Linked DNA regions of Homo sapiens: region 1 is linked to region 2. The links come from fine-mapping of genetic effects on gene expression. Tissue or cell type: whole blood. Region 2 holds a variant in brackets; the other region holds the start of a gene. All regions are shown on one strand. Distances are from middle to middle.

Region 1 (2,758 bases), 58 kb after region 2:
ATTACAGATGTAAGCCACTGCGCCTGGCCAATATGTAACATTTTTAACTTTTTGTAAAACCAGAGAATATTTTGAAATGTGTCCGAATGCCCTGCCTAGATTCTAGACTCTGTGAGGCCCCAGCCTCCTTTCCTATGCATGACTTACTGTTTAATGTAGTACACACAGAAGGGATATCATCATCATAATAAAGGTCCTCACTTTCCTTCACAGTTTCATCTACCCCACAATGACTCCCAGGAAAAGGAGGGTACTGTTTCAGACTTCCCAGCTCCCGTATATTAGGTGGAGCCAAGTTCTTGCTGCAGCATACGGGCACGCTTTAAAATTTTCAAATCATTTTTTAAAAGCTACAAGCTTGACAGCTTTGGGTTTTTATGGCTACTTGTTTTCTGAAGTTCACAGAACTTTATCATTTGGATCACACACTTAAAAAAATCACTTGCAAAAATCTCTTTAAAGATGAATATGCTTCCTCTTCAAGAGAAACAGACTAGCGGGTAGAAGAAAAAGGACCCGTCTAGAGTATTAATAAATAGACTGATATTCACACAATGGATTAAATGGATTAAAGTCCATCCCACAGATGAACTGTTATATTAATAGAATCCAAATATACAGTTACATCCTCGACCCTGAAAGCAGTTTAAACGGGTGAAATTCACCCAGTGCTCACTTGAAATGAGTACTCTAAAGTTTAAAGCACCTATAAACTGCCCTCAGGATTCAATCATTTTTCCATTCCTTCCGGCATTATATACTTTGATGTTTTAATGTTATTAGCCCACAATACACACCAGTTTCAGAAACTCAGTTTTTGTCCTCTAAGGGCTTTTAGTCCTCCCAAAAAAAGAATAGGGCAAAAGCAAGGAAGATCATGAATCTGGTTTTCTAAAAGCATTATTACAAGACTGCTTTATAAAATTGTAATCCCCAGCTGCAGAGTTCCGCAGATGGCTTGAAAGTGTCTTACATGCAAATAAATAAAAACAAAAGGCCACTTATGCGAGCAGAACACAGCGTGCTCGATAGTCATCTTAAACCGAGCAGGTAGGTACTTTATCAGAGGCAGACAAGGGAAACGTCACTTATTTAGAGTTCACCGCACGCCTGGATAAAAGTCCTCACTAACAAAATCCCTGCCTTTGTGGATTCTGTGTCGGAAAGGGAAACGATAAAGAATACGGTTTGTGACAGCACTACTCTCAGGAGACGAAGGAGAGATGCTAAGATCTTGGAAAGGAGAGAGAATAGGAAGAGTCGGAGGGGAGATCTCCTCTCAGTAAAACGGCACCCACAGCAGTCAGACTTCAGCTACGAGCAAAATCGAGTCCGTGCACCTCAAAAAAGAGAGGGAGGCAGGGAAAACTTTCCCTCGCCTCTCCCCATCCTTCCCTCCTCCTCGCAGGAGAGCACATTAGCTGAGGTGCTGGCGGGGCCGGGCCGGGGACCCCATCCCTCGCCCCGGACGCAGCGCCCGCAGGGACTGCCCGGGAGCCCGAGCGAGGGAGGCGGGAGGTACAGGAGTAACGGGGCACTCCCGGCCCGGCCTGCGGGGAAGGGAAGCAGGGGCAGGGCCGAGGGGGAAGAGGCCTCCGCGAGCTCGACCCCGCGCCCACACGCTACCTGCGAGGTCAGCTGCTGCCGCGCCGTCCCGCGGGACCGCAGGGATCTCCGAAGCTCCAATGGGCGCAGAAGTGCGAGCGAGCGGCGGTGCCCACCGGCAGCGAAGAGGAGGAGCGCCAGGGCGCCGGGCCCGCCGGGTCACGTGGCCCCGGCCGCCTCACGTGACCCGGTGCAGCGCGCGCCCGGGACGCTACCCAGCCGAGCATCCCGCACCGCCCCGGCCCCGGCCCCGGCCGAAACCCTGCTCTTCGGGCCCTACAACCCGACTTCTTTAGAAGCCGATTGGCCGTCTCAGGCCCGCCCCGAGGCCCTGCCACTGGAGTGTCCCCATGAAATCCGGTGGCTGCTGCCGGGACTTAGAGGCTTTTGTGTCTGAGGAACCAGGAACGCGCGAGGCACGGGCTCCTGCTCTGCTCCCCGAGATGGCTTGGCTGTGGGGAGGGTCGGCCTACCACCCCAGAGACCTAGGACGGAAAAGCGACCGAGAAACTTGGCTCCCTGCCCACTCTAGAGCGCGTCTGGCCCCGGGGCACCACCCAGGTGGTGCTGCCTGGGAGGAAAGGCGGCGGAGCTGGGACTAGTTTGTTTTTACTGGAGACGCGCCTCCCTCCCTCCCCGCCCCTCACTTCCTGATTGAAAGTACCTGAGGCAGGCCAGGGACTAGGGAAGGTGGCAGCTGGACAAAGGTATGAAGGAAGGACGAGATGAGGCACAGGTCCTGGTATTGGAAAGAGGCAGAGGTACCTCGGAAGCATGCCATAGAGGTTAGACGGGACCTAAGAGGGCATCTGGTCCAACCGGATTCGTGTTACCAGCGAGTAAACTGAGGCCAGGAGAGGGACTGCTACGAGCTGCTCCAGCCTATCACCTATAAAGACTACAGTCCCTTTGTAAAATACCATACAGCTCTCGGAGAACTCCCAGTTGGCGCTGCAGGATAAAATCCAAACTTGTTGGCATAGCATTCCAGCCACTTGTTCACTTACCTTTCCCATTTGAGCTCCTAGGAATAAACAGAAAAACATTTCATTTTCTAAATATCACCAGATAACTTCACTTTTGGTAACTTGAATTATTAAAAAAGTCCTACCGTCCCTCATCTCTTGCCACTTCCCCAACATTACTGGAGGCT
Region 2 (2,758 bases):
GGCGTGGCGGTGCGCGCCTGCAATCCCAACTACTTGGGAGGCTGAGACATGAGAATCGCTTGAACCCAGGAGGCAGAGGTTGCAGTGAGCCAAGATCGCACCACTGCACTCCAGTCTGGGCAACAGGGTGAGATTCTGTCTCAAAAAAAAAAAAAAAAAAAAAAGAAAAAAGAGAAATGCCAAGAATTACATTTCTGACAGCTTCCCTGTAGTGCTGCTGCTGCTGTTGCCATCTAACATTAAAGTTCCATGGCACATGACTGCTCTCTTTCCTTTCCCCTGTTTTGGATTACATATATAAATGGAGGAGTTTCTGCCTATACAAACTGTTTAATATTGAAAATGTTTCTCTCCCTCCAGACTATGAAGAAATCGGGAGTGCACTTTTTGACTGTAGATTGTTCGAAGACACATTTGTAAATTTTCAAGCAGGTATATGAGTTATATAACATCTGAGCAGCATAGTTTTGAGAAATATTTATCACGATATTGAAACAATATACTGTACAGGTGATAAAAATATTTTAGAAGAATGTTCATTGTTTTCTTAAATGAGAAAAGCCAATTACAAAAACAGTATGACCCCGCCCACCTGCCCACACACACAGGAAAAAAATATCGAGGTACATGTGCACAGACAAAAGCTGCACCTGGTGGAGACAGTAGTTGGTTGTAGGTAGTTGGAATATAGTGATTTTTGTCTGTTCTTTTACTGCTATATTTTCCAGATTTTCTATATACACACAAATACTTTTATAATGAGAAAAACTCATTAAAAAAGTAGAGACAACAAAAAATTGATTCAAAAATTGGAGCATATTTTGGCCTGTGTGTGGCCCAGGCAGGAGCTGGTAAAGCTTCCTGCGGCTTCTCTGCTCTTGGGTGGCGAGGCTATGATAAACCATCCCTCCGCTTGCCTCCCTCTCGCTTGGTGAGATAGGTCAAAATTTTAATTCTCCCACTATTAATCCTCAAATCTAATTTAATTTCTTATCAGGGAGGGTTACGACTGATTTAAAGTTCATCAGAAAAAAAAAAAACAAAAACAAACAAACAAAAAATGAGCAAGTAAGAATAGCCAAGAAATGTTTGCAGTAGAAAATCTCGTTTGGTTTGGAGGAGGGAGATTTAACCTTCCTATTAAATATCAACCATTTATTGAGTGAGTCCTCCTTTCAGCATTAAGATGCCCTCAAGACAGGCTACACCTCCACTTGTTTATGAGTCTGGTCTGACTTCTCTATCAAGGCTGCCACACACAGCTGGGCAGGCCGGGCACAGAGTCAAACAGCATTGGTGGATGGCTCCCCCTGAAGTTGCACAACAGAGTGAGTGCCCTCCACACTCTGCATTTCCACAGATG[C/T]ATCTGTCTCTCCAGCATATGGTAGGAAGACAATAAGATTTCCCTGTGAAGAAATCATTAGTTCATATCCCTGTCTCAACATACACAACCTTTCTCATTTTGGCTTCTATATTATACATTTCTATTTGAATTTTTTACTACATTTATAACCAGCAGGAAAAATACTTTGAAAAATCTACCAAAAAGAGTGTCTGTCTTAATAGTCTTTTGAGGATGTCTGCTAATATATAGCAGTATCCATATTTTTTTAAAGCAGCCTTAAAAATTTTTTTCTAAAAAGAGTTATTTTGTAGGGGACTTCCATGTGTGTTTTTCTTTCATGTAAGGGAACATGTCACACATCACTACTTGGATGGATTAGGTGGGAGTACATATATTATAGTGTAGTATGGCGGGGGTGCCACTACTTAGAACTGCATGAGATTCAACTTAAAAGGCTTAAGTTGGGTTTCACTACCCTGGTTGATAAAAACTTGCTTAATTTAGCCTTACTCATATTTTAAGTTAACTATACGTATGCAGTTATTCTGAATAAAGTTTGTATATGTGTGTAACTGTTCGATTTTGAGGCTTTTAAAAATTACATTGCCATTGACTACTATTTGTTATTTATAAAGCCTAAGTATCTTCCTCCTAAGCTTTTCTAAGTTTCCACAATTAAAAGCCTTCCTATTTCTAAATGAAACCAAAAGCCTTTATGTAACATTAAAAATTGGACACATTTTTAGGAAGGATTTGTCCTTAACCTTGGTATTCTAGCCACATTCTCCAATTATCATCTCTCAATAAATGGATATAGTATAGCATGAAGGTTATACAGTCACTGTTTTCAAGTTCTCAAAGATATACAAAGGGACTTGTTCTGCTATAAATGTGCACAAAATCTTAAGGGTTTACTGAACAGCTTTGTGTATGATAAATGTTAGAATTCTGTCCTGAATTAGAAGGAGGAAGTGAAGGCATAAAGAAACCAGCTCCTGCCCATAAGGCTCTGGATCCTTTTCACCAGAGGCACGAGGATTGTGTATCTGTACCTGCAAGTGAAAGGGGCTAGAAATGGTACATTATTTCTAATAAAACTACTGAATAAGCTGAAATAATTTTATTTCTTCTTTTCATAGCAATAGAGAAAAAAATTCATGCATCTCAACAAAGGTGGCAGCAGTTGAAGGAAGAGATTGAGCTACTTCAGGACTTAAAACAAACCTTGTGCTCTTTTCAAGAAAATAGAGATCTTATGTCAAGTTCTACATCAATATCATCCCTGTCTTATTAGGGATTACCGTTTCCTAAGCCAAGAGTCATGTCAAATTGCAATCAGGCTCAAAACCAGAGACCAGGCTGTGAAATCCACACATCTTTAGAACTAGTCGTCTCCTCTTGGCCTCAGCAGCT

The links. PIP is the estimated chance that this variant, and not a neighbour inherited with it, causes the effect.
Region 1: it holds the start of RCBTB1, and the variant in region 2 is fine-mapped to the expression of RCBTB1 in whole blood (GTEx, PIP 0.90). The same link has a PIP of 0.9 or more in monocytes.

What each region holds. Positions count from the first base shown.
Region 1 is chr13:49,583,818-49,586,575 of GRCh38, forward strand. RCBTB1 (RCC1 and BTB domain containing protein 1) reads right to left here and starts at 1,741. Exons shown (of 13, transcript NM_018191.4): 1 at 1,627-1,741. RefSeq lists a silencer at 1,265-1,974.
Region 2 is chr13:49,526,027-49,528,784 of GRCh38, forward strand. SETDB2-PHF11 (SETDB2-PHF11 readthrough) reads left to right here. Exons shown (of 21, transcript NR_135324.2): 20 at 361-432; 21 at 2,485-2,758. PHF11 (PHD finger protein 11) reads left to right here. Exons shown (of 10, transcript NM_001040443.3): 9 at 361-432; 10 at 2,485-2,758. The coding sequence ends at 2,639. Among named protein-coding and RNA genes, the nearest start is that of PHF11, 31 kb to the left of the region's middle. The variant C/T (reference allele first, on the strand shown) is at 1,364.